3 linked regions of the Homo sapiens genome follow. The protein of the gene in region 3 interacts with the protein of the main gene of each other region in a pairwise test. Each region holds a gene or a part of one and is shown on either strand. Other genes may lie near its edges.

What was found. The genes of interacting proteins can lie anywhere in the genome.
Region 1: the proteins of PLXNB3 (region 3) and MAGI2 interact in a two-hybrid assay, tested with the Homo sapiens proteins (one study listed by BioGRID and IntAct).
Region 2: the proteins of PLXNB3 (region 3) and ARHGEF11 interact in a two-hybrid assay, tested with the Homo sapiens proteins (2 studies listed by BioGRID and IntAct).

What each region holds. Positions count from the first base shown.
Region 1 is NC_000007.14:78,253,668-78,260,667, reverse strand, and holds part of MAGI2 (membrane-associated guanylate kinase, WW and PDZ domain-containing protein 2), read left to right. Parts: intron 1-4,086; coding exon 4,087-4,725; intron 4,726-7,000. UniProt on the Homo sapiens protein: Seems to act as a scaffold molecule at synaptic junctions by assembling neurotransmitter receptors and cell adhesion proteins. Plays a role in nerve growth factor (NGF)-induced recruitment of RAPGEF2 to late endosomes and neurite outgrowth.
Region 2 is NC_000001.11:157,042,743-157,049,713, forward strand, and holds the start of ARHGEF11 (rho guanine nucleotide exchange factor 11), read right to left. Parts: upstream 3,001-6,971; 5' UTR 1,589-3,000; coding exon 1,557-1,588; intron 318-1,556; exon of another isoform or gene 165-317; intron 1-164. UniProt on the Homo sapiens protein: May play a role in the regulation of RhoA GTPase by guanine nucleotide-binding alpha-12 (GNA12) and alpha-13 (GNA13). Acts as guanine nucleotide exchange factor (GEF) for RhoA GTPase and may act as GTPase-activating protein (GAP) for GNA12 and GNA13.
Region 3 is NC_000023.11:153,774,244-153,779,945, forward strand, and holds the end of PLXNB3 (plexin-B3 isoform 1 precursor), read left to right. Parts: coding exon 1-101; intron 102-176; coding exon 177-328; intron 329-462; coding exon 463-563; intron 564-636; coding exon 637-860; intron 861-981; coding exon 982-1,160; intron 1,161-1,350; coding exon 1,351-1,417; intron 1,418-1,643; coding exon 1,644-1,971; intron 1,972-2,112; coding exon 2,113-2,216; intron 2,217-2,643; coding exon 2,644-2,737; intron 2,738-2,964; coding exon 2,965-3,137; intron 3,138-3,284; coding exon 3,285-3,445; intron 3,446-3,704; coding exon 3,705-3,852; intron 3,853-4,017; coding exon 4,018-4,082; intron 4,083-4,152; coding exon 4,153-4,228; intron 4,229-4,356; coding exon 4,357-4,431; intron 4,432-4,691; coding exon 4,692-4,796; 3' UTR 4,797-5,098; downstream 5,099-5,702. UniProt on the Homo sapiens protein: Receptor for SEMA5A that plays a role in axon guidance, invasive growth and cell migration. Stimulates neurite outgrowth and mediates Ca(2+)/Mg(2+)-dependent cell aggregation.

The DNA.
Region 1 (7,000 bases), on a different chromosome or scaffold from region 3:
CTGAAGTGAATGACCATTTAGCAAACAAAGTAAATTTTCCAGCAATGTAGTAATGAAAATATATGCTTAGCTTTCAAAAGAAATGTATCTTCTTATTTTTATGGAGAAAAAATTTGATAAAATTATAAGTATTTTCACAAGGATGATCTCATTTTCACAGTAGCTCTGCAAAAGAGGAAATGTAAGAGATATTTTTATTCCCATTTTATAAAAGAAGAAATTGAGAGATGGGGAGATCAAGTGACTCTTCCAATTCTCCGTCTTAAGTAGGCCAACAGGTTAGAGCCAGAGCCAGTCTTCCTGATGATGTCCCTTTCTGTGCTCTTAAACCCAATCTGTCTGAGGACTTGGCATGGCACCGTCAGATGACATATACCAGGTGTCTTATATTTTTATTTCACGACATGTAAATGACATTCATACAGCACAGTCTATTAATATTCTATCCAATAAGTTCTATCTGAACAAGCAAATGTTTGCTGACATCCCCGTCTATAAGAGTTTTGGGCATGACTTATTATCTAGACATCTATATATTTTTTTAAAGTGGGCAGTTGAGTACCATCAAGTTGTTATATAGTTTTATCCTGTGATAACTGACCACTCATCTTTTACATTCAGAAATCTTCTACGTATCTTCATAAAGATATTGTTGCAGTGTTCTTTATCCTTGCCTGATGACTTGAAAAATTGCTGTTAGTGGAAAATATCCATAAATTGTAAAAGGCAGTCTTACTAAGAAACACAAATAGTTCTCACTCTGTTTCTAAATAGCAAGATCACATTAAAACTCAAAAATAGGTAACATTAATCACTACAATTCAAACTACTACTCTCTAGACCTGGCAGGGAAACTTGAGAGCTTTCAACATAACCCTTAGTTCTTTCCCGTGAAATTCTGGCAGAGCAGAGGGAAGGAGAGAGCGTGCTTGGGGACTGGGGAGTCTGTTAACAGTGATTAAAGTTAGGGAGAGCCTTAGAGGAAGTGGCATTTGTTACCTCTCTGACTTTTACTTGGCCATTCAGAAACCCATTGTTTCCACAATCATACTCAAGTCATCCTTGACTGTAACTGTGGTGGGAATATCTGGGTAGAACTGTCCTGATTTTATAGAAGAATATAACAAAGGACAAAGAGTAATTACTGAAATAGCAATCATCTTTTGCATAACAATTTACAGCTTAGAAACCCTTTCACCTGTATGATCTCATTCGTTATTTCCCATGGAACAATAAGTTGCTATTACTATTGTTCATCATTACTTCTAAAAAATCTGAGTCACAGAGGATTGAAGCCAGTTTGGGAAAGTTATACAGCTAATAAGTGATGAAACTAGAACTCAGACCAAAGTCTTTTGACCTCATATCCCATGTGATCTCTACTATACCTTGCAGCCTCCTGAACCTAAGAAGAATGTTGGAGCAAGAATGAAAGTAGACATAAAAAATAGTCAATGAGTTAAAAAAAACTCACTGAATAGGAAATTGAGGAAATGAGGCATACCCAAGAGAAAATCCAAAAGGCCAATAAACATGAAAAGATGCTCACCTTCACTGGCAGTCTGGGAAATGCAAATCAAAACTATGATCACATCCATTAGATTGGTAAAAATTAAGTCTGAGAATACGAAGTACTGTGTCAGATGTAAAGCAATGAAAATTTCAACACACTACCGATCAGAGTGTAAATCAATGTGACCTCTTTTGTCAGCCATTTGCCACTATCTAACAAAGTTGAAGATGCACATGGTCTGTGCCAGCATGGGGTTCATAGCAGAGTTATTTTCAATAGCCACAGATTTGTCATAACTCCGGTGTCCATTAACAAAAGAATGGATGAATGTTATTAAGTAGTAATATAGCCATCACTAAATACTGTATTACAATGAAAACTAATCAACTAGAGGCACAAGTATCAAAATAGATAAATATCACAAACATATTTTAAGAAAAGTTACAGAATATTAAAATATATACCATTTACAAAAGGCTTAAAATATGTAAAATACTTTCCAGGGATTATTATTATTTAGAGATTAGATACTATTTAGAGATATTGTTTTTACGGACACCTAGATATGATATAAATTATAAAGGTATATGTAAATAACAAACCTCAAATAGGGCAATGGTTACCTTGGAAAGGGCTGTAAAGGAGTGCAAGTTGGGGGAGAGGTGCTAGCCAAGGGGGATTCAACTAATATGAGCAATGTTCCAATCATTAAGTTGGATGTTAGTATACAAGTATTTGTTGTTCTTTCAACCTTTTAAATGTAGAAAATATAACATTAAAACTAAAAGAAACAGGAGAGAAAAATAGTCTATCTGAATCAGACACTTCTCTGGGACACTGAGATGAATGGAATCAATTAAAAACGATTCCCAAAGCATCCCCAGCTGCCACAGTCTGAAGAGGAATTATAATAACAGTGAGGGAATGTCCACTCCAATTCAGTTCTGAGCCGTGGACCCACGTTCCAGCCACCACATCAGTACCCTCTCTGATAGACATTATGGAAAAGTGAAGTTCCATCTGACCAATCACATAGGTTGTGACATTTTCTAGAGGCAGACCTAACCTGGATCCCTGAAAATGTCTGCTTGGCCTCTCTGTCAATTTGGGAAGAGGGACTGTTAATTAAGACAATGCTGTTAATTGTTTTATTCATTTTATGTTATACACCTACAAAAGACCAGAAAAGTTGTCAACTCTAAAAGTTCAACTCTGTTTTTCATTTTTAACGTTTGCAAGCTTGCTGGGCAAGGATGTCTCAGAATGAAATCCCTAGCCATTTGTACCTCCCATTCCAGAATTATTCTGATAAACTGATGTCTGTTGAGTTGCTTATTTCAAGATCTGTGAAAACATGTCTCTTCATCCCTAATATACTCCTCAGCATAGTCAGGCACAATCTCAATTTGCAAGCTCAATTTTCAAGTATTATGGTTTGTGAAGATAAAAATACCAATCCATGATAAAATAGTTCTCCAAAAATAAAATTGTTATTCATACATAATTGAAATTTTTAAAAAAACATTTATCTCAAACAGCCATGATTTTCTGCATTTTAAGCAGGAAAAAATATTTCTCTGAATATATTTTATAATGGATAATTTGCATTCAGAGCATTTCTAATCATAAAGTTAGCCTCTAACCAGTAGACCTCTGAAAATCTGTGATAGTTCACTGGGGAGAAAGGACAAGTGCCTTTATTGAAACTGATCCACAGAAATATTAGTTTATCTAAGATCAGAGGATGAACTGTGGCAACTTTCTGTTTGAAACCAAGGGACCCAAATCTCCTCCATCCTATTTTAACAACAATCATATTAATAATAGTCCACATTTATTGAGCACTGTGTGTCATACACTATGCCAAGTACTTTTCCTACATTATGTCATTTCATTCTCACAACTTTACAAATGAGGAACTGTGGCTCAAAGCAGGGAACTTGGTCAATATCATGTATCTGTTAAATAGTAGAGCCAAGGTGTCAACCCAGCTCCCTAATCCCAAAACCTGCACCCTTGACCTTTGCTCGCATATACATGGAAGCTTTGTAATTACCTGCTATAGATGGAAAAAAATAAATGGGCAAATATTTTTCTGTTCCATAAAAAAGAAAAAAGGCAATTGACTTATTCAACTTATACAAAAAAAAATATGCTAGGGCTTTGTTTTTCGTCTAAAACTCATGACCACTACTTCTCAATAGTTCGAAAATTATATTAACTGAATTACACTGAAGATGGAATATAAGATGAAAAAGAAGCATAGAGAATGTGCTTCTTCAAGGTACACATTCCTCTAACCTTTTCTTTCAGAGCCTTTGTTTCTGAATATGAAGTTGTTTCTGAACTTCAAGAATAACCAAATAGCTTTTTTTCAGCACTTCATCATTGTATTTGCTGGCAGTCCTGTTGTAACCTTGAGTCACCCACAGTGATTTTAAGTATTATTCTAATTGATTTCTCACTGCTTACTAAGAAACAACACCTCTCACTAGTCTCGTAAATAATTCCATTTCTCTATGTCAATGTTAATTGAACTTACCTCATGTTGTCAATCTCTTTTTTTCTTACAGGTGATGTCATTGTCTATATTAATGAAGTTTGTGTCCTTGGACACACTCATGCAGATGTTGTCAAACTTTTCCAGTCTGTTCCTATTGGTCAGAGTGTCAACCTGGTGTTGTGTCGTGGCTACCCTTTGCCCTTTGATCCTGAAGACCCTGCTAACAGCATGGTGCCACCCCTTGCAATAATGGAGAGGCCACCTCCAGTGATGGTCAATGGAAGACACAACTATGAAACATATTTGGAGTACATTTCTCGGACCTCACAGTCAGTTCCAGATATAACAGATCGGCCGCCTCATTCTCTGCACTCCATGCCAACTGATGGTCAGCTAGACGGCACGTATCCACCGCCCGTCCATGATGACAATGTGTCTATGGCTTCATCTGGGGCCACCCAAGCTGAACTTATGACCTTAACCATTGTGAAAGGTGCCCAGGGCTTCGGCTTCACTATTGCCGACAGTCCTACAGGACAGCGGGTGAAACAAATACTTGACATTCAGGGATGCCCTGGCCTGTGTGAAGGCGACCTCATTGTTGAGATCAACCAGCAGAATGTACAGAACCTGAGCCATACAGAAGTAGTGGATATACTTAAGGACTGTCCCATTGGAAGTGAAACTTCTTTGATTATCCATCGAGGAGGTAAGACAAACACTGGCTCAGCAATAAAATATGTGGGTAAAATAGTAGGATCATTTAATAATATTGTTAAAATGCAGATTTCCTTGGAGTTGAATGAAATTATACTTTAAAAAATAAAGCTTAAAGAGTGAGAGAGAAAAACATGAATTAAAGGAAACTTTGTTTTTGAATTCAGAATATGTCTTTTTCTATTTTGTATTAAACACAATAATAATAGTTCTTTCAGTCTTACAGACATATTGATAGAAAGTTGGAGGGTAAAGATTAAATCCCCAACTATGAATGTATTTTGTTTCAAAAATTCATTCATGTATCGGTCATGGAGAACTCAAACTGGTTTCCCATTGATTTAATTAAGAAACCTGCTTTTACGATGGAAGCAACGCTTTTAATCGTGCTTAGGTTTCCAGGCTAGCAGGTGGAAGCCAGTTCAACCCCTACTAAGCCCAAGCACAGTCTTGACAATACTCAGAAGGACCATGAACTGTGAGAGCTGTGGGAGCTGTGCTGCTGTAGAAAAATCTTTTCACAGTTTGGAATGATGCTGTTCAGGACACTTCTGCTACTACAGGAACTGCACTAGCAACAATTACCCATAGTGCCTCCCATGATCTGGGAAGAAAGTTACAGAACAGGGTGAGGGCTGAAGTTCTGGCCTGAGTGTCCCGGGCAAAGTATGGAAATAGGAACAGTGCCAAGTGTGGTAGAAGCTCTGAGCCCTGAATGTTTCTTCCCCTCTACCTTTTCTGTGGGGAAGGGAATGGGGTAAAGCACAGGGCCCCTTCTCCACACCTCTGCTGCTTTGCTCTGGATGACCAGTGAACCTAGAGAGAGAAGGGAGGGAAGGGGCCATAGATAAAGAGGATACTATCTCGAAAAAAGAGTGTAAAGGAAAAGGATCAGGCTAAGCCCTGGTTTTCCCATTTGCCAATTTGTGGACTTAGGACACTGAAAGTCAATGAGCCTCAGCCATGTCATCTGTTACAATGGGATAATACTACTACCTAACCCAGTGGTAGTGTTGTAGCCCAACATCTGCTCACTAAATGTCTGGCGAGTGTAAACATCGAAGCTTCAGCATGGGTGGGTCAGAAGGAACAGGACAATGAGGAACTCATGCATGAAGGACACACGTGTGACAAACATGTGGTTGCCTATTCAAAGCACTCAAAACAGCCTGAAACTCTCAGTTTGAAATGCAAGTGAAGGCTGTCAAAGCTGAAAGAAAGAAGCACCTTTTATGATTTATTTGGCCCTGTCTGCAGGTGTTTTTCCTTCAAGGAAGTATCACATTGTTGATTCCTTGTTTGGAAACGGACAGCAAACACCAGGCATTTGTGAGCAGCACTCTACAAAGTCTTAGGTTCCCGGTACTAAAAGGGAAATTCATATGATAGCCAAACAATCTTAAATTTGACCTTCTCAAGGCATTGTTACAAAATAGCACTTGAATTCTCATAATTAAATGTTGGCAAGGTATTTTAATTTCTTGCATTGCTTAAGATTAAAATAAACATTGCTAATTAAATAGCCATATCTTCATAGTGTCCAAATGAAAATCAAATATTTGGACCAAGTTCTTGATATTAAATGGTATCACAAACTCACTGTGCAGTATCCACTGTATGATTCATAGAAACAAATTTGGATGCATTTTTTATATACAGCTTCTTCTAAAAGCATGACATAGCAGAAAAAAGGTACTTTGAAATCCCTAATTTACATTATGGTAATTTGTACTTTTCTGAAAATATTCGTTGTGTGCCTGCTATCAGCTTGGCTACCCCATTCTCACTTTTCCTTTGCCCCCCATTTACTCCACAAGTAATCAAAGTGGTCTTTGCATTTGGTTTGTGTTTGGGGATGAGGGAATTGGTTTTTGTTTTTTGCCTAGCATAGCAAAATGCAGAATGCTGTGATGCTTAAAGTACTTCTAGTCGAAAACCTCTTGAGTTTACCCTAATTCCCACAATTTATACTCATCTCTCTGAAATTAATAGGAACTAGCACCATGCTTATGTGGTGAAATTCACTTTATCTTATTATGGGCTACCAGAAGTGCCTATGACCTCTTTGAGATAAGCAGACTCAAGAGCTGAGTCGCAGGCCTGGGTCCTTATATCAGGACCATGGGTGGTCGGCTGTTTTTAATTATTTACTAGAGTTTTTAATTTATAAAGTAATAATGTACATGGTTTAACTTTTTTAAAGCAAATAATGTCAACAAGTATAAAATGAAAGTAATTGTCTGTCCTATCCCAGACTTTCAGTCCTT
Region 2 (6,971 bases), on a different chromosome or scaffold from region 3:
TTCTTGCACGCCCCCAAAACTTGGGTTCCCATCTTCTCAAATCCTTGCATTTACCAGAAAGAGTTCACCATCCAAATCTTAAAAAGGCAAGTGCACTAATTCTCAAACTCCAAGAGGATGAAAAGGGAAGAAGGGCAGCCATGTAAACCATTCCAATTCCTCACCTTGACACACCTCAGTTCTCCCTTTCCAAGGGTCAAACTGCAGAGAGGCCAACAGAAAGGAGGAAGGAGGTCTGAACTGGCCGTACATCCTTTGTGGCTGTCTGCCTCCTCTTCTCCACTGCCAAGTCAGTTCCCATCTAGGGACTGCTGAACTAATCTAAATGGGACTCTGAGGCAATACAGAGATTAGTGCTTGAGAGAGAGAGATTATATGCATTTTAGGCCACATTCCACAACCAAAAGGAAATTATTATTAGCATGGATAACCGAAGGTGGACTGGGCATGGAGGGAACAATTGCTCCCTTGCAAATATTCTTCCCTATCTCTCCAATAATATTTTTTTCCAGGCCCAGTCCTTTCATTTGCTTGTTCAGTCCTTCAACCACCCATCTATCCAGTTAGGATGTGTGCAGTGCCCACAAAACACACCCCCCACAGCAAGGTTCTCATGGGGAGAAGCGTTGAGGAGGGGTAGGGGAGGGAAGGAAAAGGCAGACACCTTACAAAGTTGTACCAATCATTTGGAGGTAAGAATTGCAACCACACAGTAACATTACCAGTGATAGAGGTGGCTGGGCAGACTCTTGGGGCAAGGGGTGTCATGTGTTCAGACTCTGAGGGCCAGTGCTGCTGCCCAGCAGGCCTACGAGCCCAAAACAATTTCTTCTGGCTCCAGGCAGAGGGAAGGCCCATTTTGCAGAGTCAAGCTTATTAAGAACAGCTTGGAAGATTAAACCTAGAGCATCAGCCGGTTGGCAGGTCTCAATTCAAACTCTAAGCTTGGAGGAGAGGAAATTCTAATGTGATCTATGCATTTTGGGACCATGTCAGCTACTGGTAAAAATCCAGACTTGCATGGGTGCAAAGGATGTTTCTGTCCCATCATTCAGGCCAAGAACATCCTCTTCATTTCTAGAAATGGGATCCACCCCGTCACCAAGCCCCACCATTCCATACCAACCAGCCTGGTGGAGGCCCACGCCTCTGCCAGGGCCCTTCTCCCAGCAGCTCCAACACCTAAAGCCAGTCCCCCTAGTGCAACCCTAGGAGCTCACAAGACTGGCTTGCCCCCACCTGAGACTAGCAAGTTGGGTGGACTCAAATTCAGCCTCTACCCTGGCAAAAGTCAAAAGCCACTGGAAGCACATCCTCCTCCTTTCCCTCTCCTGGCTTCACTGTTTATTGCTTATATTCAAAAGACGCTGAATCAAGAGCTATGTTTTTGCACATAACCACATAGGCTGACAGTCCCCAGAGACTAATGCTCCTAGCCCACCAATTCCCATAGCCCACCCAGACCCCTATTTTCAACCATTTATTAAAATGCAACACCACCCCTCCCAGTCTTTCCTTTAGTCAATGTTGAAAAATCAAATTATTAGCAAACCTACCTGTCTATACTCTGGGGTAACCTTACACTCATGGTTTCTCGGTGTCTCCACGGTTCCAGAATCCTGTAGCTTTGGTGTCTTGATCAGGATTGAATCGCTTGCAATTTTTGAGCAAGGTGAGAGGAGGGCCTCCCAACTTGAAGATAGAATCCTTTCTCCTCCAGCTCTCAGGACCCTGGTAACTGATGCTCCACTCTACTTCTACCAGTGAACATGATTTCCTTTCTCAGCCCCTCTTCCCCTCCCCCGCTTTAAAAAAAAAGAAAAGAAAAGAAAAAAGAAAAAAAAAGGAAAAGAGGAAAAACTACGACCTTCTCAGAAACCAAAAACCCAGCCACGAATCTCTTCAAGGTTAGCACTATGGCCAAAAAAAAATGAATCACAGAAAAATGTGCCTTCAAAATATCACTGTTAACTGCAAAGTACAGATAAAACCATCCTTTAAATCCAGCTTTCTCAGCTGTCCTTCTGTTGGCAAGAGACCCTCTAGCTCAAAGGGGGAAAGTAATTTTCTAGTCTCCAATGCTTAATATGACAACAGCAAATATCTTTGAGGAAAGGAAAAAAAAAAGGATTAATAAATCCGAAATGGCACTTGGAAAAATTCTTTCGGCTGATTTGTACAGTAAAATAATAAATAAAACCATACAATAGTATGTACACAACAGCACTCCTTCCAAGTCCAGTGCAACCCTGGGAACCAAAATTTATGGACTTCCTTAAAAAAAAAAAAGCTTTTACATTAAATGTTTTGAAATTCTTAAATGAGCCAATTGCACCAAAAAAAAAAATAAAATAAAAATCAAAGAACACCTGAAATGCAATGCTTTTTACCTTTAAGATGGTAGTAATGATAACAAACCAGAGATAATCTCTGAAAATATTCTCTCCTTTTCTTTTTCCTTTAAACTTGCAGGTTCCTCCACCTACCCCAGCCTGATTCTCAGACCCAGCCTACGTTCGGCCTTTTTCTGAAAGACAATTTCCTGAGTTAGTTCTGCTGTTGGGCTCCTCCACATCCAGGCTCCGAAATTTTCTCTTGCCTCAGCCTCCATGAAACGGAGATTTCGCTTCCTCCCGTTCCCCCTTCTCTCTCCCTCTCTCTCGCCCGGCCAGAAAGACGGCTCCCTTATTATTCGTTCGGATTATTATTGTGGATTTGAGTTCGAGGTGGGTTTTTCTTCCACACCAGACTCCTGGAAAATCCGATCGCCTGTCTCCTCTCGGCCTCTCCTTGCCTCCCTTTCCGCCCCTCGCCTAATCTCGCAGGCAGGAGCCCGCAGTGCCTCGCGCAGGACGCCCGGCCGGGCCTCGGGCTCCCGGCGCCGCTCGCCCCGCGCCCGACCGCCGTGTTCCGGCCTTCGCGGCCGCTCGGGACGCCAGGCTCGGCGCACAGGGAAGGCTGCGGCGGCTGCGGCAGGCCGGCACGAGCGGGCGTCCGACTGCCGGCGTCGCGGCCGCGCTCGCCTCCTTCCGGGCCCCTTCCCCCTCGGTTCGCCGCTCGCTCGGGCGCAGGCCCGGCCGGCCGCCCCCCTTCCCTCCCTCCTTCCCTGCGAGCCTTTCTCCTTCCCTCGCTCCCGCGGGGCGGGGCCGCAGGCTCCTCCTCCTCGCTGCGCTGCCCGCCGCCCGCCGGCCTTTCCCCTCACGCCGCGGCGGCCGGGGGCGGGGGCGGGAAGCTGACCGCCTTTCCCTGCCTCGGTTCCCGCGGCCGCGACTCCCGCCGACCGGCCCGCCCCTGTCCCGGCCTCCCTGCGCGCCCTGCCCCCCACAACCCTTTGCCGTCGCTCCTCGGCCGGTCCCCTCTGCGGCCCCTCAGTCGCCGGCCCTGCCCCTCGGCGCGGCCTAGCGGGTTCCCATCTCAGCCGGATCCCCGGCCCGGCCCGCGGGCGACCCCGGCCCTGACCCCGCCAGGCACCGCGCGCCGTCCCCGCCGCCGCCACCGCCACCGCCACCCCTGCCGCCTTTTCGCCGCTTTTCCTCGGCTGCTTTTCCCCCTTTTATTGACTTCTGCTCGGGAGCCGACCTTTGTTTCCTACCCCCTGCCCGCCCAGCCACCGTGCCCGCGCCCCGTGCCCCTGCCCACGGGTGCAGGTTTACCTCTTTGCGTCCACCGGCATTACCCCGGCGCCCGCAGCTGCGGCTCACCCTCTCTCCACCTCTCTTCTGATCTTATTTTTCAAACATTTGTTGCGGCCTCCTTCGTGGTGTCAGTTCTTTTAACTGTTTCCTCCCGTTTCTGTGGTCCTTCCCACTTCTAATACCACCGACTTAGGGGGAAGACCCTTCGCTGTTTCCTCTCGGGTTGGGTTGGGCATCTTAATAGCAGGCTGTGTGAAGTGTCTTTGAACTCTATGGAAGAGCCTTTCCAGAGCAATTCTATTTTCATAACCCCCTCTCATAGAATCACAGTTTCTAAATCTTTACAAGTAACGTGACATTTGTCAGAAGGTGCCGAGCGTTATGATTAAAAATCATTAAGGCCGAGGCGGGGCCTGAGGTCAGGAGTTCGAGACCATCCTGGGCCAACATGGTGAAACCCCCCCCCTCTACTAAAAATACAAAACTAGCCGTACGTGGTGGCGCGTGCCTGTAATCCCAGCTACTCGGTAGGCTAGGGCACGAGAATCGCTTGAACCCGGGAGGCGGAGCTTGCAGTGAGCCGAGATTGCGCCACTGCACTCCAGTCTGGGCAACAGAGCGAGACTCCGTCTCAAAAAACTAATAATAATAAAATTTTTTTTAAAAAATTATTAAAATAAAAAAACTCTCACTAGGATTGGGGAGTGGACTTTGCCTTCTTGCCTAGGTAAATGCCATTGTAAAATACTCTGCAGGCAGTGGGGTGTTTGCATAAGTTCTCTCCTTTCACACTACCTGGATTGTTCTGGGAGGGGGTGGATATGTATATGTAAATTATCTATACACATTCGTGAGCTCTGGAGTGACCTCACCAGTGTTAGAAGTGGTAGATATGCAAATTGCAAGAGGAAAAAGAAACGAATAAGCATCAGTTGAAGACCTACTATGAACCAGGAACTTTCCCTTTAATGTATATCAGGTATAGGTTGGCAAATAAAAGAACCTGCTTCCTTCACCCTGTCTCCACCAACCCCTAGGCCAGAACTCCCCAAAACAGGTGATCTGCCCAGCATTTGAAGCACAGTCTAGATTGTTGCTGACTTAATTGTGTCTTTCTTTCCCATACTACCCGCAAAAATGATGCTCTCAAATGTGGACACTGCTCTGTGGTGACAGACCACTGGTTGCCACACATTTTAAAATAATGTTTTCTTGGCCAGGTGCGGTGGCTCACGCCTGTAATCCCAGCACTTTGGGAGACCGAGGCGAGTGGATCACCTCAAGTCAGAAGTTCGAGACCAGCCTGGCCAACATGGTGAAACCCCGTCTCTACTAAAAATACAAAAAATTAGCTGGGTATGGTGGGGAGCGCCTGTAATCCTAGCTACTCCGGAGGTTGAGGCAGGAGAATCGCTTGAACCCGGGAGGCAGAGGTTGCAATCAGCCAAGATTGCGCCACTGCACACCAGCCTGGGTGACGAGTGAAACTCCATCTCAAAATGATAATAATAATGATAATGTGTTCTTAATATATGTAATATTTTTAAAGCAAGTATTTACATATATTTTATTACATATCTTATACAACATTGCCTAGTGTAGAAATATTAAAAGGTTGAAATTTAAAAATGAACATTTTTTAAATCATGCTTTTTGGTGAAAGTTAATTGCTGTCATAACTGGAAAAGATGCTTGCCAAAGATAGGTAGATTCAAACAGAAGAAGTATGCCCTTGATTGCATTTATTAAATCATGATACTTATTTTCCAATCCCATTCATCAACAATGCAAAGACTTCTAATTGAAATTCAACTAGTAAATTTATATCTTAAGTCAATCCTTCTTGAATGATTGGAAGGTGTTACATTTTTATATTCTTAACAAATGGGTTCCAGCCATTAAGAAATTTCATTTAACTTTAAAAAATAGGTTTTCAAATTCTGTTTCCTAATTTTTCAGTGTGCAAAGGTTTTGATAGGTGAAACCATTGTTTTTGGTAATTAAAAAAATCACAATATTGGAACCATTTCCAGTCATCCGTCTTCAAAATACTTTTTCCTAAAGTATGTGTTTCTTTAGAAAAGCAGTGACTTCCTCGCTCGTAGATAGACTGTCATCTTAACCTTGAAGGGACAGCTTGAAGGGACAGATTAAGCGGTGTTTTTGTTGTTTGTTTTTGTTTTTGCAAGTAAGTGCTAGGTAGCATACTCTTGACAGCCATTTCTCATCATAGAACACTGAAATAAAACTGTGCATCTCCTCCATGTTCAGTATTTCATTTTAGGCTTTCCCCAGGAGATTGTTAATCTGCACAGCAAAGATTTTCATGGTCATTCTCTGTCATTACAAAGAATTGTAAAGTTTGTAGCAGTTAACAGGCTTGTTTTTGTCTGGTGGGTGGCGTACATCATGAAGAAAATGAACGTCAATGGTGATGTTACCTCTGGTTCTTGGAACCTCCTCATATACTGTGTGTGACAGATGACTTCTGACATAGTGACTGAGTGAGAATGCCATGTCATTAGTGTTAGTAAAACCTAATTATTTTTGCTATAATTAAATACTATTATGAGTGCATTCTTTTTTTTTTTTTTTTTTTTTTTTTGAGACGGAGTCTCGCTCTGTCGCCGAGACTGGAGTGCAGTGGCACAATCTTGGCTCACTGCAAGCTCCGCCTCCCAGGTTCACACCATTCTCTTGCCTCAGCCTCCCGAGTAGCTGGGACTACAGGCGCCCGCCACCACGCCCGGCTAATTTTTTGTATTTTTAGTAGAGATGGGGTTTCACTGTGTTAGCCATGATGGTCTCGATCTCCTGACCTCGTGATCCACCCGCCTCGGCCATGAGTGCATTCTTAAGTATTTTCCTCAAGCATCTCCTTGAACACTCCACTTTGAAGATTATGAGGGTGGCTTTAGTAAGATAGAGTTCCCTGAAGTTAGTTGGCCATTTAAGTAAACTGCAAGTCTCAGGTTAAAAAACAAAATAGATTAGATTGTGTCCTAGACAGACTGGGTTGTAGGAATCTGGAGGCAGCTGGTGATCAATGGAAAGAGCTAGACTAGACTAGGAGTCCGGAGAACTAGATAACTTTGTGAACTGCCATCTGCAGTTTGTAAGGATTTAATATGAACAAGCCTGGGCTCTGTAAGCTATAGAGTGCTGGGCAGGAAAATCAGGATAAATCTTAGGGAGCGTTACCTTAAAACAACCTTGTCCAACCTGGGGCCTGCAGGCCACATGTGGCCGAGGACAACTTGGAATGCAGCCCAACACAAATTCATAAACTTTCTTAAAACATTATGAGATTTTTTAAAAGCTCATTAGCTATCGTTA
Region 3 (5,702 bases):
GCGAGTGCCTGGTGAAGACGCTCACGCGCACCCACCTGTACTGCGAGCCGCCTGCGCACGCCCCGCAGCCTGCCAATGGCTCCGGCCTGCCACAGTTCGTGGTGAGTCCGTGCCCTGGGTGGGCAGGTGGACCGGGTGCCGCCAGCATGCACTCAGGAACCCTGCCCGCCCCCCAGGTGCAGATGGGCAATGTGCAGCTGGCCCTGGGCCCTGTGCAGTACGAGGCTGAACCCCCGCTGTCTGCCTTTCCCGTGGAGGCCCAGGCAGGCGTGGGCATGGGTGCTGCAGTGCTGATTGCCGCCGTGCTCCTCCTCACCCTCATGTACAGGTGAGACCCGCCCACCCCCAGCACACTTCCCTCCTCGCCATTGGCAAGGGCGCCCTGGCAGGCGGCTGGCCTGGCCCCGGCCCTGGCTGATGCTGGCCCCGGCCCTGGCTGATGAAGCTGGCCCCGGGCTGCAGGCACAAGAGCAAGCAGGCCCTGCGGGACTACCAGAAGGTGCTAGTGCAGCTGGAGAGCCTGGAGACCGGCGTGGGAGACCAGTGCCGCAAGGAGTTCACAGGTGGGTGCGGAGGCGGGGGGACAGGGTACCCACGAGGCCTGAACTCACACCTCGGCGCCTCCTGGCCCCGCAGACCTCATGACGGAGATGACCGACCTCAGCAGCGACCTGGAGGGCAGCGGGATCCCCTTCCTGGACTACCGCACCTACGCCGAGCGCGCCTTCTTCCCTGGCCATGGCGGTTGCCCGCTGCAGCCCAAGCCTGAGGGGCCAGGGGAGGACGGCCACTGTGCCACTGTGCGCCAGGGCCTCACGCAGCTCTCCAACCTGCTCAACAGCAAGCTCTTCCTCCTCACGGTGAGGGCCGTGTGGCGGGAGTGCCCAGTGGGCAAGGAGGTGGGGCTGGGGAACTACTGGCCTGAGACAAAGGTGGGGGAGGAGTGGGGCTTCCCAGGATGAGCCTCCGACCCCTGCTCAGCTCATCCACACCCTGGAGGAGCAGCCCAGCTTTTCCCAGAGGGATCGCTGCCATGTGGCTTCGCTGCTGTCGCTAGCGCTACACGGCAAGCTGGAGTACCTGACGGACATCATGAGGACCCTGCTGGGTGACCTGGCGGCCCATTACGTGCACAGGAACCCCAAGCTCATGCTACGCAGGTTGGCCTTGACCTGGACCCGGTGGCGGGGGTGAGGGCTTGCCACAGACCTGCCCCCATCGCACCCTGGGCGGGCTCTGTCCAGGGGCGGGTGGGGCCAGGAAGCCCCAGCAGGTGGGGGGAAGGAAAGTGAGATGTCCTCAGCAGGGACACAGGCACAAAGGCCTGACCCTGTGGCCGGCTCCCCGCAGGACAGAGACCATGGTGGAGAAACTGCTCACCAACTGGCTGTCCATCTGCCTGTACGCCTTCCTGAGGGTGAGGGGCACTGTCCCGCCTGCTCCCAGCCCTGAGTGGCAGACTCCTCCCCTCTTGCCATGAGGGGGCTACTGCCTGCGCCCTACGTGACGAAGGCCCGGCAAGGGGGGCTTTGGAAAGGGAAGGACTTTGAACCCTCTCCGGGGCTGGAGACGAGGCAGAGGCGAGAAGGGCTATCATCAATCCTCCCTCGCTTGGCTGATGCCGGCTCATCTTGGCAGTGCAGGAGGTGGCTGGTGAACCACTGTACATGCTCTTCCGGGCCATCCAGTACCAGGTGGACAAAGGCCCCGTGGACGCCGTGACAGGCAAGGCCAAACGGACCCTGAATGATAGCCGCTTGCTGCGGGAGGACGTGGAGTTCCAGCCCCTGACGCTGATGGTGCTGGTGGGGCCCGGGGCTGGCGGGGCCGCAGGCAGCAGCGAGATGCAGCGCGTGCCAGCCCGGGTGCTCGACACGGACACCATCACCCAGGTCAAGGAGAAGGTGTTGGACCAAGTCTACAAGGGCACCCCCTTCTCCCAGAGGCCCTCAGTGCATGCCCTAGACCTTGGTGAGAGAGCCAGCCCTGCCCACCCACCCCAGGGACCCTTCCCTACCCCTCCGGCACCTGGAGCCCCTCAACTGTGTCTTACTATGAGTGTGGGGCGTGGAGAGCAGGCTGTAGACTATCTGCTTCCCTGACTCCCTCCAGAGTGGCGCTCAGGCCTGGCTGGTCACCTGACCCTATCGGACGAAGACTTGACCTCCGTGACCCAAAACCACTGGAAGAGACTCAACACCTTGCAACACTACAAGGTGTGAGCAGGGACGGGGCGAGGCAGGGCGGGGCTGGGGCGGGGCAGGGCGAGGCAGGGCAGGGCGGGGCTGGGGCGGGGCGAGGCAGGGCGGGGCTGGGGCGGGGCGAGGCAGGGCGGGGCTGGGGCGAGGCGGGGCAGGGCGGGGCTGGGGTGGGGAGGGGCGAGGCAGAGCAGGGCAGGGCTGGGGCGGGGCGAGGCACGGCAGGGCGAGGATGGGGCGGGGCGAGGCAGGGCGGGGCTGGGGCGGGGATGGGGGGCGGGGCGGGGCGAGGCAAGGCAGGGAAGGGCAGGGATGGGGTGGGGCAGGGTGAGGCGAGGCAGGGCAGGGCGGGTCTGGGGCGGGGAAGGGCGAGGCAGGGCAGGATGTGGGCGGTGTAGGCGCCTGGCTAGGGGTCAGCACAGCCTCCGCTCCCCATCTCTGCCAGGTCCCAGATGGAGCAACAGTGGGGCTCGTCCCTCAGCTGCACCGTGGCAGCACCATCTCCCAGAGCCTGGCCCAGAGGTGCCCCTTGGGAGAGAGTGAGTCCCTCGGCCCTGACCTGGGGCCACTGGAGTCCAGGCTGGGCAGGCAGAACTCCTGGCCATGCATCTGCCTCAACTTCATCCCCCACCCCACCGAGATCTTCTGCCCATCTCCTTCCTTTCTTCCAGTCCCCACACTGCCCCACCTTGTCGGGGGAGTGGACTGGGCATCCCAGGCCAGGGGCAGGGGGTATAGCCCTGAAGCCAGGCTCCTGTGCCCTCAGACATACCCACGCTGGAGGATGGCGAGGAGGGGGGGGTGTGCCTCTGGCACCTGGTGAAAGCCACCGAGGAGCCAGAAGGGGCCAAGGTGCGGTGCAGCAGCCTGCGGGAGCGCGAGCCAGCAAGGGCCAAGGCCATTCCGGAAATCTACCTCACCCGTCTGCTGTCCATGAAGGTTGGTGCGGCCTGGGTGGCTGGGCCTGAGAGGAGGCTCAGCCAGGGACCCCGACCGAGCCAGGGTGTGGGAGGGGCAGGGGCAGCCTCAGCCGTGGATGGCCCCCACACCCTGCCCTCCACACAGCCCTTATCCCCTGCCTCGCAGGGCACGCTGCAGAAGTTTGTGGACGACACCTTCCAGGCCATTCTCAGCGTGAACCGGCCCATCCCCATCGCCGTCAAGTACCTGTTTGACCTTCTGGATGAGCTAGCAGAGAAGCACGGCATCGAGGACCCAGGGACCCTGCACATCTGGAAGACCAACAGGTGCCTTTCCTGCTGCCCCACCCCTGCTGTGCATATGGTCCACTGAGTCCCAGAGAGACCAGGACATTCCCAGGGTGGATGCGCCCACCTGGGGTTTCTGGAACTTACAGGAAGATCTAGGGCCCAGGTCACCTAGGCCACCAGGCCAGCTTCCAGCGGCCCCTGGCTCCGAGTGTGTTGCCAGTAGGCTGGAGTACATGGGGCGGAGATCACGATGGCAGGCCAGGGCCTCACGCCCACGCCTGCCCTGCGCCCCCAGTCTGCTGCTGCGGTTCTGGGTGAATGCCTTGAAGAACCCACAGCTCATCTTTGATGTACGGGTGTCGGACAATGTGGACGCCATCCTTGCTGTCATCGCCCAGACCTTCATTGACTCCTGTACCACCTCGGAGCATAAAGTGGGCCGGGTGAGAGCAGTGCCAGCAGCAGCAGCTGGCAGGGGCTTGAGGAGGAAAGGCTTATGGGGGAAGCCTAGAGGGCTGTGCACAGAGCTCTGGGTGGGCAGTGGCAGCATCATGGGGGCACCTTCACCTCCGAGCTCATGCCTAGCGCCTCCCCTCCCTCCGGAGCAGGATTCCCCAGTGAACAAACTGCTCTACGCCCGGGAGATCCCACGCTACAAGCAGATGGTGGAGAGGTGGGTGTCAGAGGCATCGGGGCTGCGGGGAAGGGGGCTGCCCCACCCCTAACGAAGTCTGCTCCTCCAGGTACTATGCGGACATTCGCCAGAGCTCTCCGGCGAGCTACCAGGAGATGAACTCTGCTTTGGCTGAGCTCTCCGGGGTGAGGCATGGCCCGGGGGGTGCGCCTGTCCACACGTGGGTGGAAAGACTAGCAGAGCAGAGGGGGGAGACTTGGGGCTTGAGGACCAGGCTGGGACCTCACTGCCCCCCTCCACGTGGTGCCCCCAGAACTACACTTCTGCTCCCCACTGTCTGGAGGCTCTGCAAGAACTCTACAACCACATCCACAGGTACTATGATCAGGTGAGGCCCAGGGCACTCCGGAGGGGAGGCACAGTGGAGCGGGAGGCCCGTGGACCCTCCCGGGGGAGCAGGGGTGCCAGCCCATGCTGGCGGGGCCCAGGCTGGGGAAGGGACTCGGCTTTCATTCTGATTCCCCAGGGAGACGCCAGGCAGCCCCTGCTGGATCCCCAGGCTCCTGCGGTGATGGAAGCAGGGTGGGTGGCCCTGGGCCAGCAGGCAGAGGGGCAGGCTCAGACAGGCACCCTCCTCTGCCCGGGCAGATTATCAGTGCCCTGGAGGAGGACCCTGTGGGCCAGAAGCTGCAGCTGGCCTGCCGCCTGCAGCAGGTCGCCGCCCTGGTGGAAAACAAAGTGACTGACCTGTGAGCTCTGGCTCAGACAGCAGCAAGCCGGATCCACCAACACCGCAGCGCCTTATGACCCCGGAACCGAGCCAGCCACTGAGGGGAGCTGGCAGAGCCTGGGGGCACAGGGTGCAAAGCCAGGCACTGTGCCCAGCAGTGGGCTCCCTGCCTGCCACCTCCCCTGCCAGCCCACCCACCTTCCCCCCACCTGAGATTGTTTCTAATTTATAAGGATCCCCCTCCTTCCCCCTCTCCCCATTGTATTTATTTGCCTGCTGGAAAATCACATCCGGAAATAAAATAGAAATATGTCTTTTTATTTTATTTTGAGACGGAGTCTCGCTCTCTCTCCCAGGCTGGAGTGCAGTGGCGCAATCTCGGCTCACTGCAACCTCTTTTTCCCGGAGTTCAAGCAATTCTCCTGCCTCAGCCTCCCGAGTAGCTGGGACTACAGGCGTGTGCCACCACACCCGACTAATTTTGGTATTTTTAGTAAAGACAGGGTTTCCCCATGTCGGACAGGCTGGTCTCAAAACTCCTGACTTCAGGTGATCTGCCCGCCTCAGCCTCCCAAAGTGCTGGGATCACAGGCATGAGCCACCGCGCCTGGCCAGAAATGTCTTTTGACAAAGGGCCCAATCCCCAGCCCCTGCTGTTCCCTGCAGGAGCTGACTCAGTGCTCTCCTGACTGAGAGTCCCTCAGCCCCATGCCTATAACCTGCTACCCACAGACAAAGAGAGGCCATCAGGTACCCGGGCTTCACTTTCCCTCCCACTCTCTGACCTCGCTGGCCCCTCCAGCAATGCCTGGCCCACCCCTACCAGTTCACGGACCCTGGTACAGGGACACTGCACCAATATCTTGGGACAAACACCCTCTCTGCCGAGCCCCCTCCCTTTCATTGGGACTCCTCTGTCAGGCCCCAGC